Linked DNA regions of Homo sapiens: region 2 is linked to region 1. The links come from fine-mapping of genetic effects on plasma protein levels. A gene starts in region 1. The other region holds a variant in brackets. All regions are shown on one strand. Distances are from middle to middle. Region 1 holds the start of UCMA (upper zone of growth plate and cartilage matrix associated). Region 2 has its middle 29 kb from the start of UCMA.

Region 1 (5,374 bases):
CCTCCTGCTATCCACAGGAGTTGACTGGGTGACAGCAGATGCATTCATGCACAATCCTGGGTGTTCACCAGGCTGTCCTGCACCTCCCATGACTAATTGACACACTGAGCTTCTGTCCGAGGTAAGGCACTTCAGGCTAAATGGTGTAGCTCATTGTTTGGAGTCAGCTTAAGAGGACAGAAGAGGCCATGCGCGGTGGCTCATGCCTGTAATCTCAGCACTCTAAGAGGCCGAGGCAGGGGGGTCACCTGAGTTCAGGAGTTCGAAACCAGCCTGGCCATCATGGCAAAATTCTGTCTCTACAAAAATACAAAAATTAGCAGGCGTGGTGGCAGGCATCTGTAATTCCAGCTACTTGGGAGGCTGAAGCAGGAGTATTACCTGAACCTGGGAGGTGGAGGTTGCAATGAGCCAAGATCCTGCCACTGCACTCCAGCCTGGGCGACAGAGTGAGACTCCATCTCAAAAAAAAAAAAAAAAAAAAAAAAGAGGACAGAAGCTATTTGCCTGGCCTAAAATCATGCCTGTTTCCCCTGGAAGTCTGCCAGAAGATTGCTTCTCCCATTTTAATCAAAAACAGTCCAGCCCCCCTCCCAACCTTTCAGTGCTTCTTGACATTGGCCAACTTTTAAATCTCCAGTTGTATGAGGCCTGGAGGTTTTCCTAGCACGGTTATACTTATTCAATTTTTTTTAAAAAAAGAAATTTCATCTCCAAGCATTTCTATCTCTGTTCTTCCCATCATTTGAAAACAGTCCTGTTATTTTTACCAAGCAAGTCACCTTGCTGAGTGCCCTGAAGAATACAAAGAGTTCATTCACCCACAGGCACGAGGAGGAAAGACTCAAGCCAGAGACTCGGGAGATACTGTCTGAGCTCAGCATCTTGGAAGAAGCAGGTTCAGGAGTAGAAACTCAAATGCCCTCAGGGGTTGGCAGGTGAAGGGCATGAGGACCCTGAAGCCGGGGCTCCACAGGCCCTACAGCAGGCTGTGCAACAGACAGGCTCACCCCAATGTGTTGAAAATGAAAACTTAAAAAAAAAAAAACCTCTGCTGGCTGAACACAGCTCTTTCAGAGGCTTATAAATAAGGAAATTAGGACCAGAGGGAGGAAGTAGCCAAGGCCACTTAGCAGCACAGCTGTCCCCAGACCCACATTTCTCAGCACCCAGTGTCCTGTGCCTTCCCCATGTGCGATGCTGTTGCTCTTATACAGAAGGTGTGCTGGACCAGTACCCGCAAAGCACACACTGATGTGTGGGTCGCCTCCAGACCAGAATATAGATTTCCCTCCCTACACCTTTCTGAAATCCAATGCATCTTATCCCTGTTAGGTGTGTTTAATGTAGCATCATGGCCAAGAAGCAGGACAAGAGGACCTGTCTCCAAGTCATCTTTGCAGAGGTGGGGCCTCCTAACCCTGACAAAGTATTCAATCCAATATACGACCTACAGTCAGGAAATAGGGTGTAATTTCTCATTCAGAGCTGCAGTCCCTTTGATACCCTGGGGTGAGCCCTTCGTGCCCAGCTGCATCCTGCTGCCCGGCTGACTGTGGGAGAGGAGGAGCCGGGGGGTGTGAGCAGAGGTGGTGATGGACGCGGGATGGGGTCCCTCCAGCATCCTTACCATTGACCTCATCTCTGGACTTGGGGGACCGCTTGCCGCGCCTCTTGAGGAAATTCGAGGCATCTGATTCCTGCATGAAAATCTTCTGTTTTGCATCTGAAACCCGGGAGAGGCCTGTCACCAGCAGTGTGGGGGTGCTGGGGCTGCTGCTTCGCTGGCTGCACCTGCCCTGCCCCGTGGGTGGCCCCTGCACTCACCTTCACTCGCCTCTTCTCCCGCCATCTGCATGGTGCCCACAGATACACTGGTTCCCTCTCTCAGCACTGCAGGACAAGGGCACAGAGTGAGGCTGCAGCATCAGAGGGGAGCCCAGACCCTGAGCTGAGTCCCCATCTCTCTTTCCAGGCTAAGCGTCCTGCCAGGGCCTGGCAGGGGGCCCGTGGTTTCTCACGTACCAGCTGCAGAGCCAATCTCCCCAGGAACCCACCAAGCAAGCTGGCTTGGGTTTTTTTTCTATTTTGTTTCTTTCTTTACTGTTTTTTATTATTATTATTATTTTTCTGTATTGCATTGTGTCCTACATGCACACGACACACACATACACACATGTTAACAATAAGCATACTCCTTTCTACCTGCATCACCTGAGCAGCCTTACCTGTGCATGGTAAGTCTCCCTTACCATGTAACTAACACCCTCCACCTTGACCCTCCTGTACTCACTAGACAGGAGCACCACGGCGGAGAAGCAAGACAGCAGGACGGCCTGTCTCCAAGTCATCTTTGCAGAGGTAGGGGCTCCGTCCAGGACCCACAAGGCAGACCAGGCGTCCTGCACCCTTTGGGTCCCCACTTCTGAGGCAGGCAGCCCAGGCGAGAGGAAGGAAGGCGGGGGAGGGAAGAGAGAGGCAGGAGGCTGGGATACCACTGGGGGAGAGGAGGAGGGGGCTGGGCTGCCCTTTCCATTGGCTGCTCCTAGATGGAGCAACGGAGATGTTTTTGGCACCTGGCAAATGTCTCCAGAAGCAGAGCTTGTAGTTAGGGCCCTGGGTGGGACGGTCTTGGAGTGGCCTTTCCAATGTCCGTGTCTGGGGATCTGCTGCTGGGAAGGCTCATCCTAACAGTCAGGGTTCCAGTGACCAAGGCCTGTGTCAAGGAGGTCCTGGCACCTGCTCCAGGGACGTTAGGGCCCCGGTCCTCAGGGTTGAAGCATGGGTGGGGGCAAGGAGGAAGAGAGGATCAATGGGGGAGTTTTGATCTAAATGTCAGTCAAGAAGGGCTCATAATGACTGGAATACCCATCAGGGTGACACACAGACGTGTGGGTCATGCTGACAGCGACCAGAGAACACCTTACCTGATGCACTGCTTCCAGCTGATGCTCACTGCCAAGCCAAACACAAACTCCTGGGGCCGCGGGTCCCAGAGCCCTTTAAAGTCAATTGCCTTCCCGCGGTGGCTCATGCCTGGAACCCCTGCACTTTGGGAGGCCGAGGCAGGCAGATCACCTGAGGTTAGGAGTTCGAGACCAGCCTGGCCAACACGGTGAAACCCTGTCTCTATTAAAAATAAAAATAAACAAATTAGCCGGGCATGGTGGCGGGCGTCTGTAATCCCAGCTACTCAGGAGGCTGAGGCAGGAGAATCACTTGAACCCGGGAGGCAGAGGTTGCAGTGAGCCGAGACCGCGCCACTATACTCCAGCTGGGGTGACAGAGCAAGACTCAGTCCCAAAAAAAAAATACATATAAAATAAAATAAAATAAAAATTTAAAAGTTAAAAACAGCGGCCGGGCACGGTGGCTCACGCTTGTAATCCCAGCACTTTGGGAGGCAGAGGTGGGCGGATCATGAGGTCAGGAGATCGAGACCACGGTGAAATCTCGTCTCTACTAAAAATACAAAAAAAATTAGCCGGGCGTGGTGGCGGGCACCTGTAGTCCCAGCTACTCAGAGAGGCTGAGGCAGGAGAATGGCGTGAACCCGGGAGGCAGATCTTGCAGTGAGCCGAGATTGCACCACTGCACTACAGCCTGGGTAACAGAGCGAGACTCCATCTCAAAAAAAAAAAAAAAAAAAAAATTTAAAAACAGCAAGGCCAAATTCAATCACCTTCCACAGCGGAGGGGGAGAAGGGCAGGTATCTGAAAAGCTCCACAGCTAATCCTGCATCTCTAGGAAGACACACATCATACTCCATGTAGGGGAGGAAATGGGTTCCCAGAAATGGGACCACTAATGAAATCAGCACCAACATGGCCATTAGAGCTCAGTCCCCTTGGAGATGTGTTCCTAATGTTGCCTTTGTTAGGAACCATCAACTCTTTGCTGTCAGCCTTCTGGCATCGTTTAATGTTTGTCTAATGGGAACCATCACTAGACCTAGAACCCAGCCCATACCTACCTGAAGCTCCCCTCTTACAAGACTTTTATGTTAGCTAGGCAAAGTGGCTCAAGCCTGAAATCCCAGCCCTTTGGGAGGCCGAGGCAGGAGGCTCACTTGAGGCCAGGGGTTGGAGATAAGCCTGGGCAACATAGCGAGACCCCCATGTCTATTTAAAAAAAGAAAGACTTTCAGTCGGGCGCAGTGGCTCATGCCTGTAATCTCAGCACTTTGGGAGGCTGAGGTAGGTGGATCAGTTGAGGCCAGGAGTTCTAGACCAGCTTGGCCAATATGGCAAAACCCCATCTCTACTAAAAATACAAAAATTACCCAGGCGTGGTGGCATGAACCTGTAATCCCAGTTACTCAAGAGGCTGAGGCAGGAGAATCGCTTGGACCCAGGAGGCAGAGGTTGCAGTGAGCCGAGATTGCGCAACTGCACTCCGGCCTGGGTGACAGAGCGAGACTTTGTCTCAAAAAAATAAAAAAAGGCCGGGTGCAGTGGCTCATGCCTGTAATCCCAGCAGTTTGGGAGGCCAAAGTAGGTGGATCACCTGAGGTCAGGAGTTTAAGACCAGCCTGGCCAACATGGTGAAACCTTGTCTCTACTGAAAATACAACAATTAGCTGGGCGTGGTGGTGGGCACCAGTAATCCCAGCTATTCAGGAGGCTGAAACATGAGAATTGCTTGAACCCGGGAGGTGGAGGTTGCGGTGAGCTGAGATCGCACCATTGCACTCCAGCCTGGTCAACAAGAGCGAAACTCCATCTAAAAAAAAAAAAAAGAAAGAAAAGAAAAGAAAGACTTTCATGTTTACATCCCTCATGGACTTTACCGTCGTCCAGGAAAAGAATGTTAAGGCAGAAAAATAACTGAGACAGAGTAAACAAAATAAAGGGTTGGTTTCCAGTGGAAGAAAATGGGGTTGATGGCTATGCTGGCTGGCCCTACGTGGGCTCCCCTGGGATACTGGCTGGCCTGCACTGAACATGGGAGCAAGGGCTCTACATGGCTGAACGAATGCATGAGGACAGAGCCACAGGGCTCATCTATCAAATGAACTGGATGTCACTGGGAGAGGGGAGGGACAGACACAGGGCTGAGCGATTTTGATGGGACGTCCAGTGAGAAAGCGGACATGTGACAAACCCGTGACATCCTCCATACCCTAAGTCCACTTGTGCCTTTTTAATTCTATTTGTTTCAGCCACAAACTTGTATTGAACACCTGCTGCCATGCACCAGGCACCTGTGCCCGTCACTGGCGAGTCAGCCTTGGGTAAATCATTTTTAAAATTTTTTCAGCTGGGCGTGGTGGCGCATGCCTATAATCTCAGCACTTTGGGAGGCCGAGGCAGGCAGATCACCTGAGCTCAGGAGTTTGAGACCACCCTGGGCGACATGGTGAAACCCCATCTC
Region 2 (5,374 bases), 29 kb after region 1:
GCAAGACCACAAGCCCACCGGGAGGAAGGAACAACTCCAGACGCGCCACCTTAAGAGCTGTAACACTCACCGCGAGGGTCCGCGGCTTCATTCTGAAGTCAGTGAGACCAAGAACCCACCAATTCCGGACACACTGGGATTACAGGCGTGAGCCATGGCGCCTGGCCTTAGCCATTTTCAAGTGGACAATTGGGTGGTTTTCAGTATATTCACATTGTGTTGGGCAACCACCACCACCATCCATCTCCAGAACTCTTTCTTCTTGCAAAACTGAAACTCTGCACACATTAAACACTAACTCCCCATTTCTCCATCACCATTCTATTCTCTGTCCCCATTAATTTGACTATTATAGGGACCTCATATAATTGGAATCACACAGTAATTGTCCTTTTGTGTCTGGTTTAGTTTGCTTAGCACAATGTTCTCAAGAATTATCATGTTGTAGCATGTGTCAGAATTTCCTTTCTTGACCAGGCACAGTGGCTCATGTCTGTAAATCCCAGCACTTTGGGAGGCTGAGACGGGAGGATTGCTTGAGCCCAGGAGTTTGAGACCAGCCTGGGCAACATGGCAAAAACTCATCTCTACAAAAAATAAAAAACAATTAACCAGGCATGGTGATGCATGCCTGTGGTCCTAGCTACTCAGGAGGCTGATGTGGGAGGATCACTTGAGCCCAGGAGGTTGAGGCTGTGATGAGCTGTGATTGAGCCACTGCACTCCAGCCTGGGTGTCAGAGCAAGACCTTATCTCAATTTTTTTTTAAAAGATCACTTTTGTCGCTGCTTCCCTGAATGCATGTGACTGATTGAGGCTATCATTCATCTCCACCCCTGCTACAGCAGTTTTCCTGTGTTGCGTCTCATTCTTCTCTGTCATCATTCTACAAGCTATTGTCATATTCATCTTTCCACAATGCAGCCAGGCACTGTGGCTCACGCCTGTAATCCCAGCACTTTGGGCGGCAGAAGTGGGTAGATAACCTGAGGTCAGGAGTTCGAGACCAGCCTGACCAACATGGTGAAACCCTGTCTCTACTAAAAATACAAAATTAGCTGGGCGTAGTGGTACATGCTTGTAATCCCAGCTACTTGGGAGGCTGAGGCAGGAGAATCGTATGAACCTGGGAGGCAGAGATTGCTATGAGCCAAGGTCGCGCCATTGCACTCCAGCCTGGGCAACAAGAGTTAAAACTCCATCTCAGAAAAAAAAAAAAAAAAAAAATGGAGTCTCAATCTGTCACCCAGGCTGGAGTGCAATGGTGTGATCTCGGCTCACTGCAACCTCTGCCTCCCAGGTTCAAGCGATTCTCCTGCCTCAGCCTCCTGAGTAGCTGGGATTAGCATGCACCATCACGCCCGGCTATTTTTTTTTGTATTTTTAGTAGAGATGGGGTTTCACCATGTTGGTCAGGCTGGTCTCAAACTCCTGAGCTCATGATCCACCTGCCTCAGCCTCCCAAAGTGCTGGGATTACAGGCAAGAGGCACCACGCCTGGCCAAAACCATCTTTCCACAATGCAAATTTGATCATATGACAATACCACCTACAATCCCCCAATGATGCACAGCACCCTACCACCCCCTTCTTTGTCAACAGAGCTGAGATTCTGTCCAGTTCTCCGCCATCCACGTGCTTCAGAGACACCTGGACCCATCTCCTCATTGATCTTGATTGGTTAAGCCAGTCAAGGCAATCCGTTGCTAATCATTGACTTAGGAAGGGGTTTACAAACTTGAGGCAGGGAGGAAGACTACAGTAGTGCAGAAGATTCTGGAAAAGGATTCTTAACTTTTAAAAAGAGCACAAGAAAAGGATCCCTAGTCCTTAAAAGGAGACACAAAGAAAGGATAGAATTCTATTTTGCCTCTGGACGGTGTGTAGAGATGCAATGCCTGGGGCCACTGCAGTCATTTTGTGATCATGAGAAGAATGATTGATCTGATGAGGACAGAATGTGCCCTACTCTGGGCTTCCAGTTTTATGAGGTAATGCATTTTCTTTATTGGTTAAGCCTGTAGAGTTGACTTTTTCTGTTACCACCAAAAGCATCCTGAGTTATTTACCATTGAACATGTTTTTTTTCTTTTTTTGAAAAGGAGTCTTGCTCTGTTGCCCAGGCTGAAGTGCAGTGGTGTGATCTCAGCACACTGCAACCTCCACCTTCTGGGTTCAAGCGATTCTCCTGCCTTGGCCTCCCCAGTAGCTGGGATTACAGATGTGCACCACCATGCCTGGCTATTTTTTTTATTTTTAGTAGAGACAGGGTTTCACCATGTTGGCCAGGCTGTTCTCAAACTCCTGACCTCAGGTGATCCACCCGCCTTGACCTCCCAAGGTGCTGGGATTACAGGTGTGAGCCACTGCACCCGGCCTACCATTGAACATTGAATAAACTCCAATTTACTATGTGTGGTGTAAAAGGATGTTCATCATCCATCCCTGTTGACCTCTCCAGTTGTCTCTCCCGCTGTCTCACCCTCTGTGCTCTGAACTAACACACTCTTGCCATGCTGTGTGGATTTACCCTTTCTTGACATTCTCTCTCTGGTGAGCAGCCCTCTACTCCCTTGCCTATTGGACAAAGACTTTCTAATTCTTCCAGATTATGACTGAGCACCCTCTTCTCCTCAATGCCTCTCTCCTTTCACCTCTCCTGGTAGAAGTGACCTTCTCTTCCTTGTGTGCCCCACCCCATTCTCTCCCTTTTGCCCTCACTTTTCCTTGTACATGACCCCACTTCTAGGTTCAGCCTTACTCCATGCACATAGATTTGTAGGAGATTGCTCTCCCTCTGCTGCCCGCTTCTCCAGTAGACTCTGAGCTCCTTGGGAGCAAAGACTATATCTTA[C/T]TCAGTTCTGTTTCTCCCAGGGGTTGTGATAGTGCCTGGAACATCATGGTCACTCAGTAAATATTTACTAAAGGGTATTGACGTGGAGGGCTTGGTTGAAAGCTGGGAGAAGTGGGAAGGGTGGCCAGGCAACTGTGAGGGGACAAGGGCTGGAGTGCCGGTGCGAGGTGTGTGGTGTGAGTGTGTGCACACATGTGTTGGCCGGCGTCTGGGTCTCTCTGTTGAGGGAACGCATGAAAGGGTGTCTGTGTCATGGTACAAGAGCGACCCAGTGGGTGAATGTGGGCTTGTGTGAGGCAAGTCTCCTGTGCAAGGAGGTATGAAAAGGGGGTTTGTTCCAGTGACTGGAGGCATCTGTGAGACTGTTGGGAGTGAAATTCTGAGGACTGGATCAGAAGTGCAGAAGGAACACATGTAAACTTTTCTGATCAGTCGAAATTTTGGTCCGCTTAAGATCTTTTCCTAAAGCCATATTTGTCATTTTTGAAGCCCTAGCTTCTAACCCTTTAATTATTTTCATTCCTACTCAACCTGCCCATGTTTTCCACACCTCTTTTTAGTAACCAGAAAGGAATGAGGCAGACTGTCCTAATAATAAGCAGATCATCACCTATTATGTATGAAACCCAGGGTTTTTTGGTTTGTTTGTTTGTTTGTTTGTTAGAGACAGGGTCTCACTTTGTCATCCAGGGTAGAGTGCTGTGGTGCAGTCACGACTCACTGCAGCCTCAACCTCCTGGGCTCAAGCAATCCTCCTGCCTCAGCCTCCCAAGTAGCTGGGGCTACAAATGCATGCCACCACACCCGGCTAATTTTTAAATTTTTTGTAGAGACAGTGTCTCACCATATTGCCCAGGCTGGTCTCGATCTCCTAGCCTCAAGCAGATCTTCCCACCTCAGCCTCCCAAAGCTCTGGGATTACAGCGTAAGCCACTGTGCTCAGCCCAGGTGTTTTTTTAAAAAAACATTTGTTTTATACATTCACTCTTGTAAAATAGGCAGTGTATAGGAATTACCTGAGATCCTCCAGGCCACAGGATGATGGAAGATAACATGTGTGATTTTGTCTTTTTCTTGTTTTGGAGGAAGACACAGGAGCCCATCGGGGTAACGAGGAATCAACACAAGATTATGGGTGGTCTGGAGCTCTCCCCCTCCTGCCAGTTTCCAGCAACATCCGAGGCATAGTCGTGACTGATTTGGGGGTGAGTTTTGTCATATTCATTGATAAATACATCCTTATTTTTTGAGACAGGGTCTCCAGCCCAGGCTGGAGTGCACTGGTGTGATCATCCTCACTGCAGTCTCAACCTCCTGGGCTCAAGTGATCTTCCTGCTTCAGCCTCCTGTGTAGCTGGGACCACAGGTGCACACCACTATGTCCAGATAGTTGTATTGTCTTTTGTAGAGATGGGTCTCACTATGTTATCCAGGCTGGTTTTGAACTCCTGAGGCCAAGCGATCCTCCTGCCTCAGCCTCCCAAAGTTCTGGGATTCCAGGTGTGAGCCACTGTGCCCAGCTCTAGACCCAATTTTAAGATCTTTTTTACCAAGTGAAGTCTGAATGGGTTTCTCCACAAATGATAAGAACAAAAGAGAAAAATATCCAATACTCTTATTTACTTTGCAAAGCACTCCATGCAGCCCTATTTTATAAATGAAGAAGCTAAGGTCTAGAGATGTTCAGTGACTTGTATAGGAAGGTACATAGAGCAGCCGGGGTTTCTCCTGAGGCCTGGCTGCGGGGAGCATTCGAGGGACTCTCCAAGGAGAGCTAGGGACTGAGTGTGGGGTTTGGTCCTTTTTTTTTTTTTTTTAATTGGCTCTGTCATTGGTCTAGGAAAAGACTGCAGACCAGGAAATGCAGGTTTCAGACCAGGAAGAGATTCTGCAAATCACGTGGTGGAGAGAAAGCTGTGTTTCCTGGGGGGTTAGCTGCAGCTCCAGTGACCATACCCCCAGGGTCAAGTCACAAAACCCCCCAGGATCAATGTTGAACTGTGTCCAGGAAGAAGCAAGAAATGAAGAGTGTGGCCGGTTGCAGAGGCTCACGCCTGTAATTCCAGCACTTTGGGAGGCCGAGGCGGGCGGATCATGAGTTCAAGAGATTGAGACCATCCTGGCTAACACGGTGAAACCCCGTCTCTACTAAAAATACAAAAAATTAGCGGGGCGTAGCGGTGGGTGCCTGTAGTCCCAGCTGCTCGGGAGGCTGAGGCAGGAGAATGGCGTGAACCCGGGAGGCGGAGGTTGTGGTGAGCCGAGATCGTGCCGTTGCACTCCAGCCTGGGCGACAAGAGTGAAACTCCGTCTCAAAAAAAGACTTTATGAGGTGCTCACACAAGGCACAAACAAAACAAACAGGAAAGATTCCCCTTCTGTGAATTTTAGGACTAACGGGAAAACCAGAGACCTTTTTTCCTTGGGCTTAGAGTTCCCGTCATCCTTTTAAAAATCTTATGCTCTTTAAAAAAAAAAATTGTGGTTAAATACACATAACATAAAATTTGGCATCTTAGC

What was found. PIP is the posterior inclusion probability: the model's chance that the variant is causal. Protein levels are from the aptamer-based SomaScan assay of Sun 2018.
Region 2: its variant is fine-mapped to the plasma level of the UCMA protein (Sun 2018, PIP 0.95).

The regions. Positions count from the first base shown.
Region 1 is chr10:13,231,908-13,237,281 of GRCh38, forward strand. UCMA (upper zone of growth plate and cartilage matrix associated) reads right to left here and starts at 2,467. Exons shown (of 5, transcript NM_145314.3): 1 at 2,294-2,467; 2 at 1,828-1,893; 3 at 1,631-1,726. The coding sequence starts at 2,351. RefSeq lists an enhancer at 2,170-3,080.
Region 2 is chr10:13,260,706-13,266,079 of GRCh38, forward strand. No RefSeq gene overlaps it. Among named protein-coding and RNA genes, the nearest start is that of UCMA, 29 kb to the left of the region's middle. The variant C/T (reference allele first, on the strand shown) is at 2,855.